Linked DNA regions of Homo sapiens: all the other regions are reported to be linked to region 1. The links are microRNA targets in miRTarBase. Many come from high-throughput screens and were not tested one by one. Region 1 holds a microRNA gene; each other region holds the end of a gene's coding sequence.
Evidence for each region. Region 1 holds the annotated microRNA hsa-miR-19b-3p (UGUGCAAAUCCAUGCAAAACUGA, at 2,823-2,845, opposite strand). A microRNA usually pairs through its seed, bases 2 to 8, with sites in the 3' UTR of a target mRNA and lowers its output. Matches are read on the target gene's strand: a 7mer-m8 pairs with bases 2 to 8, a 7mer-A1 pairs with bases 2 to 7 and ends in A, and an 8mer does both.

Region 1 (7,712 bases):
GACCACTTCATTGACACCACTCTTGCCATCACCAGTCGGTTTGCCCAGATTGTACAGAAAGGAGGGCAGTAGGCCATCCCCCAGGAGAATGACAGAAGCAAAGGACTTATTATTAAGCAGACTTAAGGGCCAGTGGGGGAAGGCTGTCAACCCATTGTCAGATCAGCATCAGGCTGTTATCAAGTCTGTTGGTCCTAAAAAGTAAAAGATGAAATGTTCAAAAAAAAAAAAAAAAGAATTATTGGATTAGTCTAACTTGAGCAAATATAGAATCAGAATTTTTGAAGCTAGAAAGGGTCCTCAGATCATCAAGTTCGGCCCTAACTTTAGGTGAGGGAATTGACTCTAGTGGGCAGAGTGGCCTACCCTAAGGAACACAGCTCCTCCACACAAGCCTATTAAAAGTGGAAACTGCAATAACTGACTGCATACTAGCCACGTTAGGTAAAGCACCAGTGAACCACTAGGACAATAAATTTGTATTATTAAAGTGGAGGTTTGGTGGTGTTAAGGATTACAACAAATAAGCTTTAATCCCCTCTTTTACTGAGCTACTTTATTAAAGGGCGGGAGACCCTTTTCTTTGCTGCCACATCAAACTTAACTATGATTAGGCACCAACAACGTAGTCAGCACTAGACAACACAGGAAATACCTGTAGTTATTTATGTTTGTATAATTGCCTCAAGCATTAGTCACTTTTAAAAAATTACACACACATACTTAATACTGGACGACAGAATTTACTACCCTAAGTCTCTTTTCATTAAGATTTCACTTCATCACTAACAATTAAAATCCATCCCCCCAGCCGCCACCACCAGAGAACTTACTTAACCCACATATCCTTGAGGTAGACCAATGTTATCACTGTATTTCCCCTAATGAGGAAATTGAAGCCTTAGGCAACTAGCTCAAGATTAAAATGCAATTCAGAGAGAGTTCCTCTTACTGATTAAAATGGACTGATGTTATGAGGAAAAATCAAAAGGGTTTCAAAATTAGAAAATTCCATGGCACCAGGAAGTAAGAATGACACATACTGATACCATCTTTTAGTTTGGCAGCACCTTTTTGATGAGAACTAAATGTTCATGTTGGCAGACAGTAAAACTACCACAAGCCTCGTTTCTTCATTTGCCAAATACATGATGTTAAAGATTAACATTAAAATATGAAACATAGAACTGGAAAGCAAGCCAGTCCCTGCTTCGAGTTCTTTTAATTTTATGAAGTTTAAAATAAACAACTTCCTTTGTTAACTTTGTCCTAGAAGCTGTCGTTAGCTGTTTTCGAGCAGTGGTTCTGCAAGTATGGTGTCTTGACCAGCAGCATCAGCTCCTAGGGAAAGGTTAGAAATGCAATTCCTTACCTGTAATGCCAGCACTTTGGGAGGCCAAGGTGGGTGGATCTCTTGAGGTCAGGAGTTCGAGACCAGCCTGACCAACATGGTGAAACCCCGTCTCTACTAAAAGTACAGAATTAGCCAAGCGTGGTGGCGCACGCCTGTAATCCCAGCTACTCAGGAGGCTGAGGCAGGAGAATCACTTCAACCCGGAAGGTGGAGGTTGTGGTGAATGAGAGATCGGGCCATTGCACTCCAGTCTGGGCAACAAGAGCGAAACTCCGTCTCAAAAAGAAAAAAATAAAGAAATGCAATTCCTTAGGCCCCATCCAGACCTATTGAATGAATCTCTGGAGATGGGGTTGGCTGGCTGTGTCTTAGTAAGTGCTAAAGTTTTAAGAACCACTAGAGGATCCAAATAACTTTTGGTGTTCAGTCTCAAACCACTAATTAGCTGCGCATGAGAAATTTCTGCTTTAGGTTAGTCACCCTATGGAGCCCCCGAACCCTAAATATTAACAGTAGGCCCACATCCAGGTTTCCATCTGCTAGACTCCAAAGCAAGGCAGCAGCCATCCCTCTCAGTAGCCCTGCCACCAAATCCTCTTCTCCGAGAACCCCAAAACAGAGTTTGATTGACAAGTTCATTCTTCTCTCCTGTCAGACCTCAAAATGTGCCCAGTTCCTTAAAGGTATGTGTCCCATTGGTTTACAACTCTTCATTCCCTTCCTAAGAATGAGCACGTGTACTAAAACAAAATTAGTACATGTCATCCAAATATTGTCAGGGTAATAAAATTCCTAAAATTAGGCATCTTGGTGCTTTATGTAGATGCAAACTTGAAAAGCAGCTATGTCCAAGTTTTCCTTTAGGATCCTCCCAAGAGATATTTTACAAACTCCTCTAGCATTGCTAATTATTTTTTTTAAAAAAAAAAGAGTCATTTTTTCAGATCTATAAATTTCATTTATTTTGAGGTTCATTCACATTCAGTAACAATCTGATCATTCACCAAAGTTCCAAAACACATACTTTATAAATTAGCTATCATAGTTTTTAGAAATCCAAATATATTTCAAATTATTTTTTAATAGCAGCAACTAGAGAAAGGATTTTTTACCATCTAGCTTACTGTAGCGCTGATCAGGAATGTCGCCAACAAAGGTCCTGCGGTTTACAGATGGATACCGTGCAATTTTTCTCCTATGATACTCATCAAAATTGCATCGTGATCCACCCGACAACAGCAAAACAGATCATTTTACAATGACTAAATATCAGAACTTACGGCTTTTAAAAGTTAAAATAAGAAGACGATAAAAATCCTCCTTTCTTCCACAGGCCGGGACAAGTGCAATACTTTATATAGAACACAAGTAATGCAACAAATCCCCACCCAGGGATGAATGGGCATGAGTGCTGGAGATACGCATGAAGGTGTGTTCACACAGACGTAGGAAGCACACATTATCACAATCAGTTTTGCATGGATTTGCACAGCCACATATACATATATACGCTGAAATGCAAACCTGCAAAACTAATTGTAAGTAGCAATGTCTTTGAATATTCTCTCCATCAACAAGAGATTTGTTATCCAAGAGTACTGGAAGTGCCCATACTACAGTAGAGTCATGCCAAAACTACCTGCACTATGAGCACTTTGGTACTACTAGGACCCAATCTTATCCTCTGTACACAACTGTACACTGCACAGTCCCCACCATCTGTTCCCAACAAACAATAAAAAGGCAAAAAACAAACCACTGAAATGTGTCCTATTCAAATTACTACTCAAGGCATACTTTTAAAATGCTGTATATTAGGCAGCCTGTGCCAGAAGGGGCATTTAGGGCAGTAGATTCTAAGCTGCTTCACTAACTGCACTAGATGCACCTTAACACAAGAGACACATTATAAGAAGCAGCTCAAAAGCATCAACTACTTAATTATGCACAAACTACAGTTCTCAGTAGCCATTGACTAAATCACCATGGTAATGTAAGAAGTGCTTACATTGCAGTAGATCTCAAAAAGCTACCTGCACTGTAAGCACTTTTACATGGCCAAGGCCTATTCCTGTAGCAAAATTTTAAGTCTTCCAGGAGCTCTTCTTTTCCGTCCTCACAGATCCATGCAGACTCACCTGGTTAAAACAACAAAACAAACACACACATATTAGAAACTAAACAAGTAAACTACTAGTTAATATTCCTGAAACAGGCTTTCCTTTGGCTTACAGAGTCTAAGCTAGGTTTTGTGGTTTCAACCAAATCCTGAGAAATATTAATAATCTCAATTATTTACACAGAATTGAACACGAATAACACTGGCAACTGCAAAAAGTCCAATTCTTATGTATAAGCAGATTTTGGACTCCCCCTCTCCATCTAAGAAAATTTGATATCTGCATCTCAGTAATTTGCAGGCACATTCTATCCACCCTGATTTTATAAGAGGAGGACCTAGAGAAAGGAGCATGTAAAACCCAGGATGAGTATTCGAGTCTTCAGATCATTCAGAGCTTTTGGGCTCCATACGGAAAGTGACTGTTAGATTAAATGAATATTCCCAGCCCCCACCCCATTAATAGAAAATGAGAGAAATTTTAGAGCTGGTTTAAGAAACACAGCCTTACAGTCTTCACATAATGCACAGATGGCTGAGAGATGTCACATTTTGATCTATTTCAAAGGGCTCTACTTCTGTTTAAACATTTATGGACCCATTTTCTCCATTAAACCAAAGTAGGCAGATTAGCTCTTCTTCCCTTCATGTCATTATCTTCCATAAGAAAACCTTCTCCCATTTCCAAGTGCTTATTTTACCTAAGAACATACAGCAAGGAAGTGAGCCTCTATGTGAAAAAGGCTCACAGGGTCCCCTATCTCTTCCATGATGGGGTAACTTTTGTTTAAAAGAAAAACAAAAACGTTTGGGACAGAATCTGTAATACGTTAAACGAGTGAGGGAATTTTAAATGTTGAACTTTCGTCACGATATCTTATGCCACTAAATGAGTCTTTAGAAGTCTTTACAAACTAAACTGATTTATAAAACTTATACATCAATCTGGAATCAATTTTCTATTAGGGAAGAATGGATTTAGTATAGAAATGAGAAAAATAACATTTTTCCCCTTAAATTGGGTTTCTACACCTGTGAAGATTTCTTTTCCATTAAAAAAAAAATACTCCAAACTTGACTCAAAATGCATAGTATTTGCCAACCCAACCTGGCCAAACTGAGCCCCACAGCCATCAGACAGGGCGCCCTTCTAGTTACTACCTTTTGCTAATTAGCGGTTCATCTGGCATCCCTCGCGCACGCTGGGCAGTCACTCTCCAATCCCCTTAAATTGCAAATAATAATAATAATAATAAGGAAAAGAAAGAAAGAAGTCCTTCCCTGTACGCCTTTGTGGCTCCCTTTTGCCTCTTCCCGCGTCTCTCACACCCTTACCTAATGCTCCCGTTGAAGTCCGCGAGCAGCCCGCGCGTCCAGGGTGTGCTCCAGCTGCTCACACCACGCGCTCCAGTCCTCGTGCAGCCTCAGCCGCCGCCGAAATTAAAGAGAAAGAAACAAAGCATCATGGGAAACGGAGTTCTCCATTCAAAGCACCAAAAACGCGCCAAGCCCACGCCTCCCTCCCCCTCCATTCCCGGGTTGGTGGGATAGAAGCCAAGAGGGAGGGGAGTCCCTTTTTTCCCTCCACGTGCACCCCCTCATTTCACACCCTCACCACCAAAGTTTTCCAGGAACCTAAAGGTCAACGGTGGAGAAGAAAAGGGGAGTCGTTTCCCGCGCGCTGCCCGCTACCCCTCAACCGCACTCTGGTACTTTGCTTTTCTCAAGTCCCGCCCGCTCCGTCCCCTCCCACCCAACCAGTCAACTCTACCGGATCACAGCTGCCCCAACGAAGGGCTCCCTTCTTGCCCAGCCACCCGCTCGGGAAACCGCGCGCGGGACCCAGCTCCGGCCCGCCCCTCGCAGGTGGAGAGCGCGGGGATCCCGCACGGGCCGCCCTCTCCGGGTGTCCCCTCCACACGTATACCCAGTGTCCCAGCGCGCAGCTCGAGCGCTCCGGGGCCGGGTGCGAGCGCAGTCTCCCGCGGAGCCAGAAGGGGAAGAGAAGTGAGAAAAAGCGTCCACTAAATGGATCAAGGCCGCGAGCGCACATCTCACCCCAAAGCGCCCCTGTCCAGAGCGACGCGGGGCCACGAGCCTCCCTGCCACCACTTGAGGAGCGCTCCGTCCCCTTGGCCCTCTGTCCGTAGCTATATCCCTGGGAAAAGCCCGCCCCTCTGCCTTTAATAGCCCAAGGAAAAAAGCCCGCCCCCGCCCACCCGGCCCGCACAGGAATTAGGAAACGGAACCCCCACCCCGCCAAAGCGAAAACCCCACCGAGCCCCAGTTACCCACGGGCGGACCGCAGTCGGCATTTTCCCTTCTCTCTTCCCCCAAGCTGGAGTCCTTAATTAAAGGCGCGCCTGGGACAGCGGCCCAGGCAGAGGCCGTGGCCGGAGCCGGTGCGGGTGCCACCGGCATCCGGGCCAGGATGGCGCACTCACTACCACCTTGTCCCATCTCGCTCCCGCGGCGCTCGCCTCAGCCCCCCACCGGAGACAGACGACGAGGCCCACGGAGCCGTGGGACAGGGGTGTCCCCCACCCGGCGCGCGCATGCGCGCCACCTCGCCGCTAGATTGAAAGTGTTCCTAAGGCCCGAGGAGGGAAGAAATAGAAACACGACTTACTCTCTGCACATGTGAAAGTTTTAACCCCTAGCACCTTGTGCTACTGTTGGGAGGCTTTCGCCCTTGCCAGGCGCCCTCTTCACCCACTAAATCAGGGTTTCTTGGCAGGTATCGTTAACGGTAGCAGCCACCGAATACACGCGCAAATGTGCGGAAGATACGGTGCAATTATCTTGCTTTCTCCTCTCATTCCACCGCTAATGAGAACCAATTGAGGGCGGGCTGCTTCAAGGCCAAAGCCCGACAGCGCTCTGTAGAATAAAATGATGTCTTAGTTTAAGACGCACAATCAAAATGGAATTAAGCATACCAGACTTTGAACACCGGGCAAAATGAGAGACAACCGGGCTATATACCTTCTCCGCGTCCCTGGCGGACACAGGCGCAAGATGGGATTTGGGGAGCGTGCGGGGGTTGGGGGGGTGGGCGGGGGTGTGCAGGGTACGAGGTTACAAATCAGAGACCAGTGAGCACGCTGGGTCGGAGGAGGAAAGCCCTGGAAGGCAAGCGGGGGGCAAGGAAGGAGGGAAGGGGTGCAAAATGAAGCCGGACCCCTCCCTTTCCACCATTGTTACCAGGGTGATTGTGGCAGCCCAAAGCCCAGAAGAGGACAAGGGCGCCATGTGATTCTCAACCTGGTGCACTGGTGCACAGTAGTAGCTCAGGCAAACATTACAAAAGACTGGCCTCTCCCGCCCCTGGCCCGCGAAAGAGTCCAACCTGAACTGCCAGCGCCCCTCAGGAGTCAGCGGTGGATGCAACGAAAACCACAATCATTTCTCCAACGCGAGTCACTCGCACAGGTGGGCTTCCTCCCCTTTTTCATGCAACAGACCTTGCAGCCTACCCTGGCACGTCTGCGTGATACTTTCTGGAAACTACGCAGCCCGAAGTTTACTACCCAACCAGATCCCTCCTGTGAGATTGCACCGACTGCAATGCAACTTTCGACCTTTAATGGTAACGACTAGCAGTGGAAAGAAGAGGAGGGGGAGGGAAGAGAACTTAGACCCGACTTTAAGAAGCGTTGTATTAAAGCAAGATAAGAACAGTACCTTTGAGCTGGAGCAAAACCTGGAGTAAAAAAAAGGGTTTTTGCGAAAGTGGCGCGAAGATAATATCATGTGATCCGACCCCAGGGCGTCTCCTTCCCCTTTTGCCAAACTCCCCTCCCCTCGAAAAAAGGGGGGTTGGGGGAGCTACATCCGCTCCTCACAAACTATTAGCATAATTAATTGTGTCCTACAGCTGCAGCCAGAGCTCCCGGGTCAATGAGTAAACATATCCTCATCCTCTTCAACATCAGAACAAAAAAACCCATTACCCTGATTTTGGAAAATGTTCCCAAATAAATCTCATTATCTTCAAAAGTCTTTATTTGGTATTCGGAGTCTATGTGTCTTGGTTGGAGAGACAGAAGAAGGTTGGAAAAGATGAAATCATCCTATTAAAGGGAACAAGTAGAAGTAACTCCCCAAGAGTGACATATTTAAGTAAAGGTTTTCAAATGGAAATACCGTGTTGAGGGACTTCACTAGCTTAAAATTTTCCAAAAGTTTTAGCAGTTCATTAAACAAGACATCCTCCCAGTCTTCCTATTCGCCACCCCC
Region 2 (7,498 bases), not on the chromosome of region 1:
CTCTGCCTTAGTGGTTGATTTAACTCCAAGAAATCCAAACTCAGCCATCCTTTTGTCTCCCGTGGAGACCCCCTACGCCAATGTGGATGCAGAAGTTCATGCAAACCGCCTCATGAGAGAGCTGGATTTTGCAGCCTGCGTGGAAGAGAGGTTGGATGGTGTCATCCCACTGGCTCGCGGGGGCGTCGTGAGGCAGTACTGGAGCAGCAGCTTCCTGGTGGATCTCCTGGCTGTGGCTGCCCCCGTGGTCCCCACGGTTCTGTGGGCATTCAGTACTCAGAGAGGGGGAACGGATCCTGTGTATAACATCGGGGCCTTGCTCAGGGGCTGTTGCGTGGTTGCCCTGCATTCGCTCCGCCGCACCGCCTTCCGTATCAAAACCTAAATAGAAGTTGTTGTTACCGTGTGCCAATGTGTCCCATGTGGGTTGTGCCAGGTAGAGAAACAGGAAGTCAATCATCTGTGACAGTCTCTATTCTGTCGTTTTGCTCCTTGGTATTTGATTTGCACTATATTTAGTTGAAGCCTGTTCACTGTTTAAAACCGGAGGTATCTTCAAAGGCATGGAGACCTGGTTCCAGTAAATGTCCCACCAGTGGGGTATAGAAAGCATGCTCATGACCCTGCCGTGTCGTCTGAGGTACCCGTTCTTATCCTAGTGGTTCAGGAAGAGAAAACGCAGTTTGCACTTTCAAGACAGCTTCTCTAAGGCTGGCATGTTATCTCCTTGCTTTGCTTTTTGCCGTTTTAAAATGTGTAATTGTTCCAGCATTCCAATGGTCTTGTGCATAGCAGGGGACTGTAACCAAAAATAAACATGTATTTGTGTAATTGGTTTGAAGAAGTCTTGAATAGCTCTTTACTGTCTTACTTGGGGTTGATAAGATTTGAGTGTTTGCAATTTTTTACTAAATGTAGCTCCAAAGTCTTAAATGGCTTGTTTGTTCTTAAACTGTTAATTGATGAAACTGTGCATAAGTTTACAATGTACTAACTTATTTTGCTTATTATATATAGTGTTTTATTGGAAATTGTAACCACACACTTCAGCATGATGAAAATAAAGATTAGTGTTTCCATTTAAATAAATGTTTTATCCTCCCATAAAATAATAATTATTTCTGTGATTTTACTTCTATGTATAAGAAAGACAATGAATAGCAGATCTTACATCTTTATCAATAGGGGGTCTGTAAAAATTGAATTAAATTAGGAAGAGGGAAAAAGAGTTAGTTATTAAAGAAAATGAAGATTTCCTACCCTTACTTAAAAAGCATCATTTCTGAATAAAAGTAGATTTGTTTACTTTTAAATTGCCCATACACTATTTTGTCCATATGTTTATGCAGTAAGTACATCTTGAGTGTTTTCAGGAACATTGGGTTGATCTAAGCATGCTAGGTGTTCAGGAGAGGGAGAATATGGTAGTGCCATATAGCTTCCTTCCCCAGAATGATAGGATGAGGGTGGGTGGCTGGGAAGGGATGAGAAGGTATTTGATCTATGTTCATCTAGTGCTTACACCAAAATTTTGAGATTAGTATTTTACACATATCTTTGAGGGAACTAAGCCTCAAAGAGGAAAAATGTTCAGGATCTCAGAGCTCATCTCCAGAAGCCACGATTTCAAGTGTTTGCAAAAGCAAATGCCTTTTCTACTTTGCCACACAAAGGGAGGATAAAGAGGCTGGATAATACCCCAAGTTCTCATCCAGAAACTCTTCTTCCATAGCACTTAACACCTTTAAATATACCACCCTTTTACTTACAATGCCTTGGTTATTACCCATCTTTCCCACTGAGATATTAGCTCCATGAGGGCAGGGATCTTTGTTCTGTTTTGTTCACAGCTGTATGTCAAGAACCTAGAACAAATGAAAGAATAAGACTTAGAATTTGATAGCACAACAGGGAACCTATAATCAATAATAATTTAATTGCATATATTAAAATAATTAAAATAATATAATTGGATCGTTTCAACACAAAGGATGCTTGAGGGGATGGATACCCCATCTTCCATGATGTGACTATTGCATACACATTGCATGCCTGTACCAAAATAGCTCATGAGCCCTATATAGACACCTACTGGGTACCCACAAAATATTTTTAAAATATTTTAATTTTCTACAAATAAATTAAAATTTAACAATAACTTAGTACAGCACCTGGCACATAGTGGGAAGTCTAAAAATTGCTGTTGAATGAATTAATTAATCCAGCAAATATTTACCAGGTACTCCGATGCTAACTGGGCACTTTCCAGGATGGGTCTTAAAAAGTGAAGGAGACAGAAAAGGTTTCTGTCCTCAGGAAGCTTATGTTCTGTGTCTGTGAGGGACACAACATGCCATCAAATAAACAAAAGATGGTTTCAGATAGTGGTAAATGCCTCAAAGGAAATAAGGTATTTTGACCAAGTGTGGCAGAGGTGAAAGTAAGGAACACATCTCTGAAGAAATAACATTGGTGGGAATGGATGAAAAAGAGTCAATCATGCAAAAATATGGGACAAAATCTTGTTGCAAGAGGAACAAATGCAAAGGCCGTCAGACAGAAAGGACTCAGAGTGTGACAGGAGCATCCTGGAGGTCAGTGTGGCTGGAGCAGAGTGAGAAGGAAGGAGAAAGTTGGAGTAGACAAGAAGCTGCTTCATATGGGGCCACACAAACCATGGTAGAGGTTTCAGTTTATTCAAGAACGCCATTTAGGGGTCTATTGTAATGTCCAGATGAGAGATGATGCCAATTTGGAGGTGGAAGTAGATACAGAGTTTAAGTTGAAAAATTACAGATATAGCTTGAAGATAGAACTAATGTGATTTGCTGATGGATTAAATGTGGAGTAAGGAAAAGAAAAAAAATAAGGGTGACTCAGGTTTTTGGCTTGAGCAATTGGATCAATGGCGGCCATATTTGCTCAGAATGGGAAGAGTTCAAGAGAAACAAGTTTGGGAAAAATAAAACTGAGATGTCTATTAAAACATCTATGTGAAGATATCAAGAGTAACTGCATATATAAATGTGAAAATCAAGGGAGCTGTCAGGACTAGACTTATAACATTGAACCTTTCTGGCATTTGTGTGGTAATTAAAACCATGGGAACAAGTGAGGTCATCCAGGAAGAGTGTAGAGAAGGAAAAAAGGTCAAAAATGGATTTCTGAGGTACTTCTATATTTAGATAGAGGTGGAGGATGAAGAACCAACAAAACAGCCAGAGAAATGACAGCCCAAAATGTAGGAGCAAAACTAGGTGATTAGTAGTATAAAAACCAAGAGAAGAGAGTAATTCAAGAAGAATGGAGCAGTCAATTGTGTTGAAGTCCCACCAAGAGATTAATATGAGAATAGTTACATATTCACCGGCTTTGACAGCAAGGTCTTAATGACTGTGTCAACATCATTCCTTGGAGAAATGGGGATGGGAGGCCAATTGGAGCAGGTTGAAGAGTGAATGGAAGCGAGAAAGTGAAATATGTGCTGCTGAATTTTTTTGTTTTATTAAGTTTTACAATTAAGGAGAATAGGAAATTGAGTGGTAGTTAAAAGGAGACATAAGGTCAAAGGTTAATTTTTCAATATTGAGAAGAGACAGAACATGTTTGTATGCTTTTGTTATTAGGCCAATGAAGAAAAACAAATTAACGACTTAGCAGGGAAAAAATAAGAAAAAATTATAAATTAATTGAAGAAGGAGAGCCTTTGAAAAGAAGGGATAGGATCCAGGGCATGGGAATGTGTGTGTGAGGAGAGATGGTTTGTCTCTGATAGGACATTCCTATTGGAATACACACGTGTCTCAAGCACACACATTTGTATTTACATGTCTTGCAGCTCTAGTCAGCAGTAGAAGGATTTGTTTGAAATGGAAGGGAAACTATTTCTGAATAATCGGAAGTGTCCTGAAATAATGAGCCATGCTGACTCAGGTCCCTTCCTGTAGTCCAGCCCAGATCAATACTTAGATACTGGTATCTTCCTTAAAGTCCCTCCTTGTGCTTATTTGCAGTCATTGCTAAAAGCATTTTTACTTTAAAAAGATTATAAGCCTGTTTTGAGTATCTGCTTGTTTCCATAGAAACAAATATAACTACACAAACTCAGCATTGTTCTCCATCAATTCAAGTTGGAGGGAAAGGATAGGCTCTGGTTAGAAAGAATTCTCCACAAACCACAAATATTTATTAATTGTCAGATTGGATGTAGCTGATCACCAATAGCAAATAGTTTTATTGTCTTAATGTCCTATATCCTCCTTTACATAAACCAAAAGATTCAAACAACCCATTGGAGACACTGGACACCCCCTCACCCTCCCTCTCCTGCTTCTTTAGGGTTTCAGCTGTATAGTCTGTGGAAAATTACTGCTTTTATTCAGAACAGTCTCTCACAAATGAGTCCCTTGGAGTAAATAAAAGATGGAACATGTTTGCCTTTTGGAAGCCCAAGGCATTGGCTGGTTTTGTGGACAGGATGATCTGATCCCATAGAAAGAAGTGCCTCGAAGTTGCTTTCAGTAATTTGAGTGCCTATGGTGTACAAACAGGCAGGAAAATGAAAAAAAAACGAGAACAATTCCACTCTATTGAACAAATTGCTGTCCCATCAAAGCAAATGTTAAACATTTCCTACAGTTATGTGTGCAAACATTCCAATTTATAAGAAAAGATTTTTCCCAAAGGGATATGTTGACCTTTCCAAGTTGAGCTGTTCAGAAAAGAGGGGAAAAAATGCCATGCACTCAGATGCCAAGCGTTTCTGACATTTGTGGCAGAAGAAAAAGGAAGACTGTGATTTGCATTAATCTTTGGCCCTGCCTAAGTAGTGGTTGGGTCTGATATGTTTTCCTCTTGAGGGTTTTTCATTTTAAAAGATTTGGGGTAGTTTCCCATTTCCATTTTGGGTCAGTGAGCACTTGAAAAAATATTATTTCCTTCCAATCTTGCCGGCAAAATGTGCACAATGAGGCAGTAGCCTAGGAAATTAATAGTTTATAACAAATCTTGAAAGAATGTCAACAAACTCTCAATTGTCCTGAACAAAAACAATTAGAAAGTCCAAATAGAATAAAACAGGCTTATATCAGGTAATTATTTTAAACCCACTGGATGCACTGCTGTGACCACTGATTTTCCCACAATCATAATGATTGTTATAACTAATGGTTACAATAATAACTTCAAAGAATTTTAAAATTTAAAAAAGGTTTAAGTTCTACTTAGAAGACCTTTTGTTAGAAGGTTGAAATATTTTTAGTAAGCATTCAAGTTTGTTAAAAGATGTACAACTTTAATAAGTATTTTAAACACTCCAATATATAAAACACATACAAATGACTGCACAGGCGGGAAGCCCTGCCATTGGCCTCCCCCTGGCCCCCTGCGGGGGTCCTGGTATTACTTCTGAGAAGAGCTTGCATGTCATTTCCCTATATACCAGGTTCTTTGAAAACTTCCAGTTCATGTAAGATCTCACGTATGAAAACTGTTACTTGAAATACTGCTCTGGTTAATGCTGAAGATATGTTTCTCTGTTGCCCTAAATAAGGAATGCTTAACAAAATTGTTTTCTAAACCTTTGTTACAAAATTTTGTCTGCCAGTGCTTTGTTGGTCTAACTATGAAGAGGACTCATTCTCTCTCCCTCAGATTATAGAAGCCACGTAAGTATCTGGGACTATCATGATACATATAAGATGACAATGTATTATAAAATCAAGTCTGACTCCCCTTGTGAATATTAAAGGTAGGTATCATGGCTTCTCTAATTTGATGGTGCAGTTAAGACCCTCTCTCCCCTTCCTCGCAATTAAAGTAGCTCACAATGTTTGAAATGGTTTGCCAGCCTCACTTTCTACAGTAAACAATAGGTGCTGGCATTTAAAACTGACCTTTAATTCTTCTGAACCAGCACATTATTTCTAGCTTGTTGGTTGTATACAGAAAATGAAAAATGAAAGCTGACAATAATTTTTACATCTCCCACTGGAAGCTGTACATGGACAAGTTTTAAAAATGATCGCCCGTGCACTGTCTCACTCCATAAGGGCTCCTTCTAATCAAGACAGATTAGGTAATTACGAGGTTCAGATGCACTGCAGAGCCTCACAAAGCAAAAAAAGCACTTGTATTTTCACATTTTAAACTTAAATGTGACAAGCTAAATATATCTATATTCTTATGCACATCTTCACTTAGCACTGCAATAAAATGCTGAGTTAATTTCAGAGGCCACTATATCTGACGATGGTGTTTTCTCCATAAAATAGGTAAGCACTGCGTTTATTCAGGAATAGTCAACAGGTTTGGAAATGGCATTGCTGTATAAGAATTCAAATTAAGGTTTGAATATTTTAACAAATAAAACTAATTATGGGCAGTAGTTAATATCTTATAAAGAGCCAAAATTGCTCCAAGAATAAGTCAACATACTGATCAGAGTATGTCCTTTGAATTTTCTATACAAGGAGATGTTTTCTTCTGTGCCATTCATTCTCTCAACTAAATCCTAGACACTCACTAATAACTGACAAGGTCAGGGACAGTTTGTAGCAGGAAGGACTCTACGTACGATACTGATCTGCACATGCATAGAACCTGTGGCCTTGACCTCATTATAATTATGACCCAATCAAGTGAGCTAATTGGCTTATTTCTGCAGTTGTGTGAATATAAATCAATTTCATTTTGCCTTATCTGACCCAAATAAACTGCAAATATGAAATTATATGGCACTGATATTCAACTACAGTTGTCATTTATATGAAAATAAAAACCAAGCTAATTTTCTTCATATTTATTAAATTATTAGAAAACACAAATGGGTATTATCTACTATAATTTGTAATGCTATCTTCATTAAGAACTAGGAGAAACTTTAAAAGGCATTTTGGCGGCTCATAGTTCCGTCAAGAGAGGCCTTAGAAATCATAGTCTACATAGACTGTTGATTAACCACTATTATAACCTCCTCTCTAAGGTTGCTATTTTCCATTCCATTAATCAAGTACACAATTTATTTTCTAGGCCTTGGTTTCCTTATATGTGAAATAAGGGTAGTATCTCTTACAGGATTGCTAAGAGTCACTGATATAATTAGTCAAAGACTCAGACTTACAATAAATGTTTTCTTTCTTGCTAAATTTCAAGTTCAATTTAAAGGTGTATAAAATACTGCAAGATTAGGCAACTTCTCCCACTCTTTGCAGGGAAGGGGCTGCCAATACCACTGCATGGTGAGATGTGGGAAGTATATAGGGCCTCATACCAACTTCCAATTATTGAGTGCTTATACTGAACACTTATGTACAGTCTCAATCCTTACAACCACCATTTCCATTTAAAAGATTTGCAAACTCTGGCAATTTGTTTAATGCTGTACTACCTCTACAGAAGCTCTGAGAACTCTGGGAACCTCTCAGAGCCGGGGTGATCTGATCAATGTATATAAGGAAAGCATCTACAGAAAGATCCCCTGAAAAGAAGTCCCCTGAAA
Region 3 (7,445 bases), not on the chromosome of region 1:
GCTCAAGTCCCCCACAGTCGAAATCTGCTAATCCAGAATGAAAATGGAATCATTAGGATAAAATTATCGAGTGTGTTCAGGAGCGGCTATGCCAGTGAATTTCCAGCCTGAAATGAAATCATGACTTAGGTGTATTTATGAGTATCTGTTTTAAAAACCACTGTGATAGCTAGCTATCACCTCAAATTTTGAAGTCGTTTCGTTGAGTGTGAAAAAAAGGAGAAGACATTTCAAAGTGCATTTAGCTATTTAAAAACCCTTTATTCACTGAGTGTGCTGCTGATTATTACATGTCTGTGGAAGCTTCTGGAGCCAGTGGTGGAGAGGCAGATGTGAATAATCAGTCGAGATGTATATTGATATGACATTATGAACCAACAGAGGAAATCCATTAACGACATCATTTGCTCTTCCTCTGGGGCTCAATTTATAATTATTTATGTTCCAAACAAAACAAAACAAACCCTTTTTGCTCTTTTAGTACTCGGGAGAGCCTGGCTTCCAACACATCAAGCATTGTTGAAAGTAACCGTCGTCAGAACCCCGCTTTGAGCCCGGCCCATGGTGGAGCTGGTCCAGCCTTCAACTTCCGAGCGAGCGCGGAGCCCCCGACAAATGAAGCTGAGAAGCTACAGAAACCTTCCAACTGCTTGCAAGCTTCTGTTACTAGCGTGTGATTGTCCTTCTGCCTCAGATCTTCTGTCTCATTCGATACAGCAAAGTTTACGACACTGGGACTGATGTTTACATCTTTGGAAAGACAAGCATCTCAACCACAGTTTTTGTGTTTACTTAAACTGTGCTGCTAAGTAGGGCTAGGGCAAAAAAACAAAAAATCTTTATTTCAGAGTATTGCTTTTCACATTTATGGCTCTGTAGCAACTGAGTAACAGTAGGGGTGATATGTATACTTTTGCTTCACTAATTGTATCTGAGCACACATAGGAAAGTCTAGACACTGTAAGTGTAATACGCATTTTCAATGTCATGCAGTTGCCAATTCCATTTTAAAATGCCACAGATGCGTGTTGCTCCCAGTCTGTGGTTAAACGGTGCCACAGAACTGATCCTTGACACTTCCAAAAAAAAAAAAACAAAACAAAACAAAAAAAATTTAAAAAAAAAAAACAAAAAACAAAACTAAGCTACCACGAAATGTCAAATGCAAGGGTCCACCTTGAGGGAAATAGATGCCAAACTAACTAGAAGGGACCCCGGCCCTTTGTGTGTGAATTGTTTATGCACCAGTCATTTTTCACTGTGAGTTTTCGTGACACTATTTTGCAGGAGCCCATGGAAGTGTGTGAGAAGGGGTCGCAATGGAGATCACTGGGAGTGAATGTTTTCAGGGTTTTGTTTTGAAGTGTCACAGATGCTTGTCTGATTTTTTTAACCTTCCGTGATCACAAACAGGAATATAGGCCTTTGAATCTGAAGTGGACAAAGGAAAGCAATTTCCAGTCTGGCTGGGGCACAGCATTAGGTGATTGAAAAGGTGATGTGGACTTGTAAAAGGTGTTACTCAAATATTGAAGGAAGAGAATTTCCTCCTTGTGATACTTAGGATGACCCTATCTTACTCTAATAGATACAATAATTAGTTTGTTTAAAAGCAAAATGTTCTTTGTGATACAAATGAAGAGTAGGGCCTGAGGATGTTATTCTTTCTAATGGAAGGACATAAATCTATTTTATGTAGTTTTAAATAGAATGCCTAAATTAGGCTGTGGGAGATAATTTTTAGTGGTTGTAGGAAAGAGCAAATTTAGGGAGTGTTGAACTTCAGGCCTTTTATTCCTGGGAAGATATGTATAGAGAAAACTTTTAAAATAATTTTTGATTAGAAATATACATGTGCCCATGTAATAAACAACAGAATGTGCTCATTCTGCTAGTGCGGTATAATCCGAATTTGTACTCCCCTAAAATTTATCAGAATAACAATTATGCATACATGAACTATGCCAGAGTAATGTTTACAGATACTTTGTAACCAATTTCAGGAGGCGTTTTTAGCTGGATGTGTAGTTAATTAGACCAACTTATTTCCAAATGGTTTGTTAACATTTTGCTTTGGTTTACAATGTCATGTTGAACACAAAGAAGACCCAGCAGCAAAGGGATGACCAATAATTTCATCTTATAGCAAGGAGACATTCCAACGTTCCCATGTTTTATTTTCTGAGAACAGTGGGACAGATCTGTAGTAATGGAATATTATTTGCAAAAGGGTTACATATGACACAAGTAAGTGTTCTGACATAAAGTTTTATTTAGTTCAGTGGCATGTGCTGTTGGGAGCCATACACCATAAAATATATATATCCCAAAATAAATCTAGAATATTTTCACCTCCAATTTCAGTAATTGGCATATGATTTGTGAGACGCATCTGTTTTTGTATGAGGTTTAATCACTAGCAATCTGTTTAAAGAATCCAGTCCTATACACAGTTGGACTCATTCTTGAAACCTTTAAATGCTCCCTCATAGTTTTTCAGTTATTTGGAAGTTGCATTGGGTCAAACTGAACTCCTTGAGTTTGGTGTAAATTCCTTTTTTCTGCTTATTATAGTGAAACTTCAGCATGTTTCTTAGTAAACTCCCATACCATTGAAATGCTTAAGCCAGTTGGCTTTCAGTCTCATGCCTTATTTCCTCCAAGGCATGCCTCAACGCATTGTTTGTCTCATTGCTTAAATATGTCCAGAAGGAATGATCATGTATCTAATAGACTACATAGTTGGTTCCCTTGGGGAGTTATATATCATACAGTTACTAAATATTTGTCTAAATTCATTTTTTCCAAAAACCTGCTCTCAAATTTTTCTTCTACTCTCAGTTCATAAATAATATAACCATTGAAACAACACATCAGCCTCTAGCTGATCCTCTGAAAGTAGCCATTGAAATAATCGAATACTGTGTGAACAGGAAAGGAAAGCGTTACCTTTAAGAGAAGCTTTAAAATAGGAATTTATTGATATTTCACAAGATATAGGTTTACAGAAGACATTATTCAAATAAATATGTACACTATTTGCCTGATGCTATGGGGTACATAATTTTTTAAAAACTCCCTTAGACCAGCAGCCATTAGTGTAGAAATGATGGACTTTAAAGGTGATACCATGTAAGCAGATGTTGCATATAAAAATATTCCTGCCTGAATCTGATCGAGATTCTTGAATGGGGGAGGAGTGGCAGCCGGCAGCACATTGCAAATGTCATTCGAGGTCACGGTGAGGCTCTCGGTCCCGGAACAGTGGGGGCCTCGCCAGGCGTTGCCAGTATCCCTTTCCTCCTGTAAAATCATAGCTTTGTGTTACACGACTGCTTATCCAGTCTTAGGGTTTAGCAGCTGAAAGGTTTACAAAACTGAATCTGGTTGAATCTCTGTGAAAGGGTCAACACATCTGTCGGCATTTTGCACACTTATGTATTATTATGATACAACATATTACTTTATGGTAATTTTTATTTTTACATATAACTACCTCCATAAATTTGATGAAATGGCAGCCGTGTGTTAAAGTGTATCGTTCAGAAGAGCAAAGTTGAACACTTCCTTCAACATTAGGGCATGGCGTGCTGTGTGTGTCAGTGATTGCCTCTGTGGACTCATGACTTTCCATCGCCATGGCTTTCTCTTACGCCGCTGTTTGGCTTTCAGATGTAATCCTGTCTTCTCCTCTCTTCCCCACGAAAGCGCACTCGATTTTGTTAGGAATGAACGGAAGTTTAAAAATTCTTGTGCCCACCCCCGCCCTCCACCCATTCCTGTTAAAAGTTCTCTGGCGAAGAGCCAATGGGTGAACGTAATTGAAAGAGCTATTTACTCTTTTGGAAATCTGATTTGAAGTCTAAGTTTTCAGTAACAGAAGACACACAAGCAATGTGGACTGCCAAGCTTGAAGCACTTCGGGCTCTGCCTTCACTCGCATGCTACCATGTCGAGCCCAAACTCCACTTTAATTAAAAGAGCTGTGCTGTGAATTCCACAACTTCTGTTAAATAATTTGTATTCCATTATATATATTTTGCACATCTCAGGGGACCATAATGAACATATGAAAGGGGGGGGGGTGCCATCAAATAGAGAAAACAAATAGAAGAGGTGAATGGAGACTAGCTGGATAAAAATAACAAATTACTTCTTCTCTGATGTTGTGAAGGTCAGGTTCAGGAAGCATCAATTCACAGTTAATCCGGAGTAACAATGATCTGAACACCAGCTGTTCCCAGGTCCCTCTTTTTCATAGCCCAACCAGCATCTAAAATGTAAATTTAAATTACATTGCAGTCACCATGGGGAGAAGAAACCTGTTCAGTGGAAGCAGAAGCATTGTTCCTTTTTTAGGTTGGCGCAGCTTTGCAAAACTCTACCCAGGATAAACCACTTATCACCACCAAGTGTACTTGAAAATAAAGTTTTTAACTTAAATTACAAGCATATTGCTCATAATACAATAGTGATCATTTTTTGAAAGTCTTGCCATTTATAACATGGGCAGTATTTGGAGCTTCATTTAAAAACCAACAACAACCGATAATGACTTTGCACGATTCACTTTGGGATCTCAAAGTGCTTCCAAAGCATTCAGATTTACAAACAATTCACAAGACAGGTCATCTTTGTAATACGCATACTTACAACGAATTAACAAAAGGAGTGACTTAAGATTCTCCAGGAACACAGTGGCAGCTATTGATGATCTGTTTTCTATCTGTTTGATAGAGCATCATGAGAAATCACAAAATACAATGCTATTTTTCTGATGTGTGCTAATAAAGTCAAAGAAAACAAATACATCTTGACACTTTTGTCCATTTTCATTAAAAAAAAAAAAGTTCAGGGTGTTTGGAATTTTACATCTCAGCACACCTTACTGGTATCAATGGATAAAGCGGGTGATTGACAGATCCACCCAAATGCCACTGCAGTCAGAAGCAGATCTGGACACACCCTTGTTTACAGTTTCATATTGGGTTGCTATAGTTCCCGTGCTAAATCACCAGCTTTCAGGAACATGACTGCTCCTGGCAGTGGAAGGTGCTGAAACAGAAATTTTAATTAAAAACTTTATCAAGTACTCTTCACAGTGCTGCTTGGCACCATAGAAAATCAGTACAATATATCGAGCCCTACTTTGGAGGAGCTGGATTTCTGAGGGAGCTGATCCAGTTCTAAGTGTCTTCTCGAATTAGGAGATAGATGATCTTTGATGGGGATCTCCTCCGTCACCACAGGCCAGTCACAGAACCAACTAGCCACGTGCTGCCAGACCTCAGTGGGCCCAAGCAGGAGCAATCTCTTCTATCCCCCATCTCCCCCAGGACCATCCCGCCCATTGTCAACGTCATCCAGGGCTCTTCTGGTAGTGAGTGACTTTTCTGCACATGTTTAGGGCTTGGGGGAGCTAGAACACAGGAAACATGAATGCAAAAGGCATGGAAAACACTGTTTTGCTTTGGGTTAGTAAAATGTGGGCAGGACAAAGATTACTATTGGTCTGAGCTTTGCCAAGTGAGATAGAATCAACTGTCACCCCATTCCTTTCCCAGAAGGTCTTATGGTATTAAGGATACATCCAGTATTTTCCCACAGATTTTTATTCAGGCGATGTTTCATAAATTACATATATGAAAACATTCATTATTACATTTCCTTGTGTGTTTCAAACAGACATTGGCACCTTCCTATTGAGTTAATTCTCTGCATCTTTTGCAGCAGCAGCCCACAAGGAGATTCCCAGAGATGGCTCCCCTAACACACAGTCCTGTGATTTTACAGTTCTATGACTTACAGTTGATGATTCACAAGATTCAGGATTCTACAAGACTCAAGGGGGAACTAAACTTTCTTACGATTGTACATGATCAGTTATAGGGCTGTAATCATTAATTGTTGGCTTCAAATGTGGACACACACACACACACATCATGCCAAGGAGGGAATGGGGTGTTTCAAGTCAGGCAGCGATGATTCTGGAAGGTTGGAAATGTAAGGTTAGAAGCTTGGCTGGTCTTAGTAAACTTGTTCCCTTGCTCCCACCAAGAAGAGGTACCAAATGTGAGACCTGAGATCTCCTCCAATATCTGTCCTCTGCAGTTCCGGGAAACTAATCATGAAGTACACATGCAGCAGCTCCTCCACTTCCTTTCCTCCGAGGTCCTCCTTTCCATTCTCCCACCTAGATACTGACACACCGCCACGGTTTCCACATTGGAAGGGCAGAACACTGTGCAGTATCGTGCACACTTGCTGGGTTAGGAATAGAGCTGCCCTAGGGTCACCTTCATGCAAGTATTGACAGCTACAAATTAAAGTCCTTAGAGCAGTTGACACAGATACTACGTTCTAGAAGAGAATTAAATTTAAACGTCAAGTTTAAAGGGATCATAATTCTGCAGGTATCTTTCTCTGAGTGACTGAATGTGACTATTGCATTAGGGTAAATGAATTAAGACGTGCAAGTGGGATTTACTGTATGTTAGAAAGGAGTTTTGCAGCCAAGACTGCCTTGAATAAAATGTGTTTGCACTGAAAAAAAATTTTAAATTACTTGGTCTCTGGTTGCTGTAAAGGTCATCCAAGATGGATGTTCTGTTTATATTGTATAGTATTTCATATGAAATAATTACAGTTCATGAAATGTCTTCCCTAATGTTACTGATTTATAACAGCACATTTGTAACATGGTTTTTATCGTGTCAGTGTACCATACTGTAAATGATGATTACTTGTCATGCTTAGTATAATAACTTAAAAGAAAAAAAAGGACAGGGATTTTTGTAAGTCTATATTTGAAAGTCCCTCCCTATGGTGATACTGTGTTCATGTTGTTTATGTAGTGTTGTGTGAAATATCCATTTTGGATTGTGTTACTTTTTAAGATATTAAATAACATTTGGTTATATGTCTTAAGTGGATTTTTTTTGGTACTTGAGAGAAAATATTTTAGGTGAGGTTAATTGACTTCTCTCTTCAATTAATAGGATTTTATAACATTGTGATTACTCAATATTATTAGAGCTTCTGAGTTAAAACAACTAAAAATGAAAATTTTCTGATCAAAATTCTTTTTCCATGAAAGTTGGGGGAAAAAAATCACATTTTTAGGTAACTGAATTTAAAACAGAGTGAGAGAGATGCCTATAACTACATTTTCTATATGAAATTATAAAGTGATGTGATTAGGTCTGGGGTTTCTTTTTCATTAGCACTCATGTCTCAGCTTTTGTTCCCAAGTGGATGGGATCCTCTCCCCAGTAAACACGAGGAGGCTGCTCACAGGTTCCAGTGAGTCACTTGCACAGGTTCGGAATCCTCCATGTTTATTCTCCTTCAGCTGTCATTCATTCTTCTGAGTCTCTCACTGTGGCAAATCTTTGCCCGTAGAAAATGGGCTTTTTCAAACCAAAGGGATTTGCTGCCCCGTTAAT
Region 4 (7,712 bases), not on the chromosome of region 1:
ATGAAGGAAGGAAGATGGTCCTTTTTAAAACATTGTTAAAACAGACACTCCTGGTGACATGGACATCAGTAGGTACTAACCATGAAGTACTTGAGAGATTGAAACCAGACATACTTATTTTAATCATATTTTATATAAAATAGACATTTACATAAATTTAATTTTGGAAAGACCTAGGCAAAGTATACATCATTAGACTCAATGGGAGAAATACTTTATGGAAGATAAATTCTAACGGGCACAGCCAAAGTAACAAAAATGTACATTTACATACAACTGATCCAAACAGGAAGTAAAAGCATTATGAAAAAAGAACATGATGCAAATCATTTCCCCCTGACAAAAGGAGGGATCTGCGTGAATTACAGCAAATCAAATGATTTCCACATTATAAAAGCAAGCCATGGCTTCTACAGATATTTTAATTCCTTGGGAGGAAGTTTCACCTCATCTTTTTTCCCCAGTAAAGTAACAATCACTGTAGGAATTTTTAAGTGCACAAACTGCAAAATAGGAGTAACTACCTCTGCCATGTTCAAGCACTTGGGCAATTCAGTCACTTTTAGGGTTGTATCATTTAAAAAAGGGGCAACATTTATGAATTATCTCATCAGATGCATGGTGTTTTTCAATCCAGATTCAAGAGTAACTATTAGAGTTACTCATTGAGCTTAATGGAAACATCAAACCGACGAGTCCTTTCATGGGTGGTAAACATGACTGGGAGACAATGGCTAACTTGCCCCAGGTAAGGTGGCTCTTCAGTGGCAGAGCTAGAACTAGAACTAGAACTCAGATGTCTTGATTCTTGGGGTAGTGTACCCCTCCTATGGACCAGCAAGATAAATAACCCCCAAAGGACATCACACATACTGAAAACTACCAAATTTGTTACATATATATATATACAACGTGTACTACTGAGAATGCAAAGAAACTACTGGATTTTTAGAAATAGACATGTCTCTCCAGGTAGGAGTCAATGGTGATCTATGCTTACAAACCAATAATGACCATATATTGTGGTGGATGCTGATTTTATGAGTTACAGGCCCTAAAGATTTTAATTGAAAAGATCAATTAAAATCAATATTTTAATATCAGCCAATTGATTGTTATAAAGATCTTATCAATTCTGTTGTGCCACTTTGATTGATATTAAACCATACTTTTGATTGCAGTTATTTTCTGTTCTCTTTAAATTACATGGCTACAAATAAAATATTGAGGGAAATAATATTTTTTGGAAGAACTATTCAGCATATTTTCCTTTTGCATCAAAAACGTCAAGAATAATCATAAAATCTTATAATATTTCTCTATATTATTTTTTGACATCCTAAGCTTTTATCTTATTCAACTGCAACCTCAATGCTAGATTTGACAGGTACTTAATTCTTTTTAAATGTCAAAAGATACCATTTAAATAGCTAAGTTAACCTATATTTGGGAGATACCAACATATAATCAAATCAAAGTAAACATAATTTGGAAACCAGGAACAAAAATTTTTAAAAAATCACCTCTCACTATATTTGTTTTGAATGTCATTCCTAATATCCTCTAAATTTATTATTTTAAGAAGGTGAATCCACCACAAATCAAAGCAAAAGTTTTTTTTTTTTTCAAAAACAGATTCTAACAAGTACAAAGAAATAATTAACAAAAGCTCATGTGTGCCCAAAATAAAGATAGAGATGTAGGCATAAACTCTATACCATGGACACCTTCTATGAGTCACGAAAATATCAGTCATATATATACTGGCACTTAGTCTGGTACATGCAAATTTCAAGGCAATTCCTCTCCATCTGAGAACGAGGAATTGTGTCATTTTAAGGCCAAATTGCAGTCCAATTGCCACAAGTGCAAAACCACCCCACATAACCACCTATTTGTAATCATGGAATGATAGCCTCAACCAACCAATTGTGCCATACATCATTGTTAAGACTTCTTTGGCTCATTTTAGTATAGACTTAAAAGTAAAAATTGCAAAAGATGATAAACATCTATTATTTTGTAAAAGTTACAAGCTCCCATTCCAGGTGTCAGCCCTGTAGTGGTTCTCCAGCCTAGCTGCACATAAGAAGCATCACCAGGACAGCCAGGATGATTCAACCGAAGATTCCGAAAGGTCCTCAGGTGATTCCAAAGTGCAGCCCGTGTTGAGAGCCACTACGTGTGAGGGAACAGATGTCAACTATCAGCTGAATGTAGCTCTTCAATCTGAGAACCTGGAATGTTTTACAATGAAAACAGGAAACCCACATTTGCTCTGTTTCGCCTCAGAGTACAGTTATTGTGGGTCAGTTTTGATAGGACAGTTTGGATTTTCTCATTTAGTCTGACTGAAAGGCCGTTGCGCAGAGGCATTCGCACAACTGCTGCAAAACCCTGCATCAAACTAGGTACCACCTATTACAAATTTCAGAATCTTATGCTAAGGGTTGTGAAGTACTGCAGGAGGTTGGAATTAAAGTGCGACAATTCTCTTTGTTTTGTGATAGGCTTTAAATTAAACAACCCAAAAGGATATATCTCAGGATTCTCTATAATACAATTTCTTTTCCTCCAAGGCATTTGCATCTTTGGTTTAGTTCACCTATGTTGTATCACTGAAACATGTTTTATAAATACTGTTAACAGATTGAAAGCATCTGAATCATTTAAAAAATCCTGAATGAATAATTCATAAGATTAAAATAAGCTGCTAAAGCCATTCTTGTGGCTTCTACATCAAAGGATACAAAAAGAAATGGACACTTATCAGGGATTTTGAAGGCAAGGAGAACTGATTCTAGGCACAAAAAAAAGGAGAGGTTAGATGGACTGGAAAAAGAGGGGTGATATATACATGAGGAACTCTAAATGTAGCTGGAAAAAAATAGCAAATCTGTTCAGAGTAACACAATCATAAAATGAAACTCTGATCATTGGTTCAAATGTTCAGCCAGGCCAAAGCAACTCCTGTTTTATCCTCAGCCATCCTTCCTACCCAGGACCTGTTTGGGAACCCAGTGCAAAATGAAAGTGTGGACCTCTTGCTCAAAAATTATTAATTATTAAGAATTTCAGTTGGACATGGTGGCTTATGCCTTTAATCCCAGCACTTTGGGAGGCAGAGGTGGGCAGATCGCTTGAGCCCAGGAGTTTGAGACCAGCCTGGGCAACATGGTGAAACCCTGTCTCTACAAAAAATACAAAAATTAGCTGGACATGCTGGCATATGCCTGTAGTCTCGGTTACTTGGGAGGCTGAGGTGGGAGGATCCCTTCAGCCAGGGAGGTCGAGGCTACAGTGAGCCATGTTTGTGCCACTGAACTCCATCCTGGGTGACAAAAAGACAAAGTGGAACTGTGTCTCAAAAAAATAAATAAGAAAAAATCAAACAGACATTCAACTGAGCTCGGGGTGCTTCTGTATGCAAGGCCCTGTGGGACTGCAAAAATTGCACATCCATGAGGCCAGCTGAGCTCCTCCATTTCAAGAAGGTGCTATCAATCCACACAGCAAGTATACTTCCATTAAGGGCAAACTAGATGCACCTCTATGATGAACCAGGGCACTCCATTTTTATTATAAAGGTAAGTTCCATGTATTATTTCATGTTACAAGGACCAAATGAAAATAGTTACAAAATACACTTAATATCATTGAAAAATAGTATGTGATCTATTTTCTTATAGGCACTGTTTTTACTGTGAAACTATTGCATTGGCCACATCTCAGTGAAGGTATTCACTTGGGATAAAAGTATCTGATCCAACAAATAATTACTTTTTTAAAAAACAGTGCTTACTTTTAGTGTTCAAAAGATGCCAGTGTGTGTAGACAGAGTGACAGTGAGAGAAAAAGAGAGGAAGGAAAAGGGAAAAGGGGTAGGGAAGGATGGGGGAGATAGGAAAGCACCTACAGGAGGCAGAGAGTTTCCTGAAGGTCATGTGATCCTTTACCCTCAGAAACTTTTAGGCTGAAATCACCATTTCTGTTATTCCAACAAATGTACTCTCCTACCTTTATTAGCACTTCAAGTAAGGCGTAATCACTATTCAAAATTTGGGGCTCAGTCTTTTCCATTAAATTTTTAAGCATGAGTTTTCATTACAGATTATTCTGAAAAGTTGTAATAAAGTCCTAGACATTCACTTTTTTCAATTTGAGGGTGTGGTTGTTATTTTACAATAAACACTGGAGTATGTTTCTTGACACTAGGACTATGATTTTGGGGGAAGAATAGTTCTTAATTAAGGTTGTGGATACATTTATGTTATATAACATGAAAAAACTATTAGAAACAAATGGTTGTAGTGGTAACATATACATTCTTGGATTACTGTTGCACACAAAGAGATGCATGCTAATTCAAATTCTGTAATCATTTTCATTTAAAATACTCCCTTCGCCATGCCTTCCGAAGAAGTTTTTCTTGTTTATTTAGACTTACCTTGACAAAACAAATAATAACACTGGGGTAGTGCTTCCTGATACTGGGTTGAAAGAAGCAGAAGGCTATTTTTACCCTGCCCTGGCCTGAGCATGCGAATTATGTGAGCCTTTAGGCTACTATGTCTGTGTGCTACCTGGCTCAGCACTATAAACAGTACTGCCTGGAGTGTTTTGGTTTTGTCTCTAATGATGAAGACCAAATTAGAAACAGGTGTTCCAATTTCTTCACTTCCAAAATATACTACTGCCAAAAAACTGAAGGCTGATTCCTCACATCTCTTTAGCAAGTGAATAATCAACACAAAGTTTGGGAGGGACTGTTAAAACTTAACTATTTTACAATTTAGATTTACATTTTATAAGATCAGTTTTGAAAGCTGATATTAAAACCACTTTGTACAGAGAAAAAAGAAGAGTGTGTATGTATATATTAAATATTTTATAAGTTATGAAATAAATAACACTAAAAATAAATGTCAAATTGTGAGTTCAACTTTGCCTTTCCTATTTCTTAAATATAAATATATATTTAAAATTTGAATTTAGATCTTTACCCTAGATTTTTAGAGCATTCTCCATAATATTCTCAAAACAAAGAATTCTGGGTATTAATCGTTGATGTTCTAAGCCCAGAATTCTCATTAAGCCTAGGAACACAAATAAATAGAGCTCTTTTTCCATCTAGTTAGAATCTATGAAGATTTCTGTGATACATCATAAAGGTTCCTCAATGGTTCAATATATTTTTCAAAAAAATAATAAATCTCATGATGTCTGAACATTAAGATAATAAAGTAGGACATTTCTCTTAGTTAATATCTTTAATTTTTTATGTAGAATATACTATTTTTTTCTCCACCAAAATAACAATATATTTGCAGGCGGGAACATGTATGATTTTAAATGCACTTTTGAAATCTTAGAGTAGAACCACCACTCTAGTAATACTTGTAATAAAATTAAAATAGTTTTAAACACTTCCATAAAGAATTAGGGGTGCCCAGCTCCTTGATTTCCCCCTAGGGATAAAGATATCCATGTACAATTCCAGGAGCTTCCCTGTAATTCCTCAAAAAAGCACTAGTAAAACTCTTAGGAGGATATTAGATAAAGCTCACTTAGCAATAGCCCTTTTTCCCCACATATTCTGGAAGGTTCTACAAAAGCTATTAGATACTCATTCCTGGTTCTGGAAAATTAAATAAGCCAATTCTTGGTAGGATTTTCCAAATGGCTTACCACAGAGGATTTATCCTCTTTTGAAATATTTCATCCCATAAAGAATAGAAGCTCTGCCTTCATAGCATTTCAAGCTTCTGTATTTCTGGGACAAAAAATGTCTAAACAGAATTAGATCTCCAGGTCTCAAAAGCACAGAGATATATCAAGAGAAATCTGGAGTTAAACCAAACAAAAATCTGTAAAATGTGTAAATGTCATTCTCCTTCCCTCTCAGACCTTCTTGCCCTTGTTTGCTGTTTTCGTCTTCTTCATGGAAAAGCAAGTCCTTCAGCACTGGGCTACCAGCAGATGTCCCAAAATGTGTCACCCTGAACTCGGAATGAGAGAAAATCTCATTAGTTGTGCCCCTGCTGATGTGAAAGCAAGGCTTCCATCACTCCCCTTTCAGAGGCACCACATTATCCTATGAGGTTGGGTCAGACGGTGGTGCTATGTTTGATCCTTTTCTCGAACTTCTTGTAATCGTTTTTCTAGGCGATCCAATTTGGCAAGATTTTCCTTCAGCAGTTTGCTGTCTGGAACCAGCTGTAAGGCTCTCTCATAATAAGCTCTTGCAGACACATATTTTCCCTGGGGGTGGGAAAGAGGGAGCAATTACATTCTGATCCATCACAAAACTCTCTCAGAGAATGAAGAGACTAAGAAACTGACCCTCTGCCCAGTTTTACATTAATGTTCTCATATGGAAACTCTGTCTGTATGTGTAATTTTATCCTTGTCTATTGGTGCTTTTGAAGACTCCATTTGTTTTAAGCACTAGATCAGTTGCAGAATGTGAAAGAGGAGAGTTATACTGTAAGGATAAATGGCAGAAAAACAGATTTTCAATTCTACTAATGCAGGGTGTGAGGTTACCATTTCCTGGTGTCCTCAGGGGGCTAGTACTGTTCCTTGTAAAATGGAACCATGGCACAAAATTCATGTTAGGGGAATGGGGTGGAGGGGATGGGAGAATGAGAGATGAGAAAATGTTTTTAAAACTGCAAGAAGAATGATTAAATAGTTTATGTATCCACTCTCTCTGTTTAGTGATAGCAGTTATTCTAGTCTTCAGCTTAAAACGTAAAAGTAACTTTTGCCTAATAAAGTTTTTTGCAATGAAAAGACTTGATAAGAATGTGAAGTCAAATTTTTTACTACTGCAGGTTTGCAGCAGTATGCATTAGCTATATACTTTTAGTGCAGTATGGTATGTGACTCCTGACCTACTAAACACAACTGTCCCCACCCTCTGTTGGCTTCCAACTGTTTTGTTTGATTCTTCAACTAGCAACCATGTGTGCCTGGTCCCAGAAGGGGTCCCTGGCAACTCAGTCACAGCTATTAGCTTTTTTCAGCATTTTTTCTGCTTCTGGATGTATTACCTCCCTTATTCGTTCCACCCTCTTTTAGATCTGTATTCTGCAAATTCTCAGAGCTAAGATTGTTGGAGTTCCCCCATTAGAAAAAGTATGAATTTGTTCCATCTATTCTTAGTTATAGCTCCCATGTGGATAAACACCAGTGACCCTCTACATTTCCATCACAATTAAAAATTGTATCTCTTAGAGTGAAGACACCATGTAGCAACAAACAACTAATACTTATCCAGTGCTTACCTATCTTCCAAATACCTGTCAAAAGCTTAGACACATAGTGAGTGCTCAATACGATACTAACATTACTGTTATTAATGACTATCCAGGCTCTGTATCAATAGTGTCTATTTCTTACTGTATTTACTGGTCATATTGGTGAAAAGGAAAGTGGAAATGACAGCACAAGAAATTGTACGTTAGATATCCAGGCACTGGCATGTACAACAAAAGGAAGTATTAACAATGACTCTGATAAGAAGTTAAACAGATTGCTGAACAAGTGGGAACTTGCATTTGCTATATTCAATTATTATTTTTTTCAATTCAAGGATATGTCTTCCAAATGTCTTCTGATTTTTATTAGCCTTAGCACTTACATGCAGACAACTATACATTTCTGGGTCTAAGAGTGCTCTCAAAATCTGTTTTGACTGCAATTGCTTT

Region 2: the mRNA of SYBU is a reported target of hsa-miR-19b-3p. Seed matches in the 3' UTR shown: 7mer-m8 at 504-510 and 7mer-m8 at 683-689.
Region 3: the mRNA of STOX2 is a reported target of hsa-miR-19b-3p. Seed matches in the 3' UTR shown: 8mer at 3,426-3,433, 8mer at 4,039-4,046, 7mer-m8 at 4,557-4,563 and 7mer-m8 at 6,538-6,544.
Region 4: the mRNA of TMTC1 is a reported target of hsa-miR-19b-3p. Seed matches in the 3' UTR shown: 7mer-m8 at 3,021-3,027 and 7mer-m8 at 1,867-1,873.

Annotation. Positions count from the first base shown.
Region 1 is chrX:134,166,861-134,174,572 of GRCh38, forward strand. It overlaps MIR19B2 (microRNA 19b-2), which reads right to left and starts at 2,906; the gene lies at 2,811-2,906. It overlaps MIR106AHG (miR-106a-363 cluster host gene), which reads right to left and starts at 7,228. Exons shown (of 2, transcript XR_007068340.1): 1 at 4,809-7,228; 2 at 2,290-3,492. It overlaps MIR363 (microRNA 363), which reads right to left and starts at 2,592; the gene lies at 2,518-2,592. It overlaps MIR92A2 (microRNA 92a-2), which reads right to left and starts at 2,752; the gene lies at 2,678-2,752. It also overlaps MIR20B, MIR18B, MIR106A and the pseudogene TIMM8BP2. RefSeq lists an enhancer at 5,293-6,100.
Region 2 is chr8:109,567,793-109,575,290 of GRCh38, reverse strand. SYBU (syntabulin) reads left to right here. Exons shown (of 7, transcript NM_001099754.2): 7 at 1-1,313. The coding sequence ends at 385. Among named protein-coding and RNA genes, the nearest start is that of EBAG9, 31 kb to the right of the region's middle. RefSeq lists an enhancer at 241-470.
Region 3 is chr4:184,016,608-184,024,052 of GRCh38, forward strand. It overlaps STOX2 (storkhead box 2), which reads left to right. Exons shown (of 4, transcript NM_020225.3): 4 at 482-6,919. The coding sequence ends at 677. Among named protein-coding and RNA genes, the nearest start is that of STOX2, 120 kb to the left of the region's middle. RefSeq lists an enhancer at 581-1,080.
Region 4 is chr12:29,500,726-29,508,437 of GRCh38, forward strand. It overlaps TMTC1 (transmembrane O-mannosyltransferase targeting cadherins 1), which reads right to left. Exons shown (of 18, transcript NM_001193451.2): 18 at 115-6,261. The coding sequence ends at 6,121. Among named protein-coding and RNA genes, the nearest start is that of OVCH1, 6.9 kb to the left of the region's middle. RefSeq lists an enhancer at 2,861-3,030.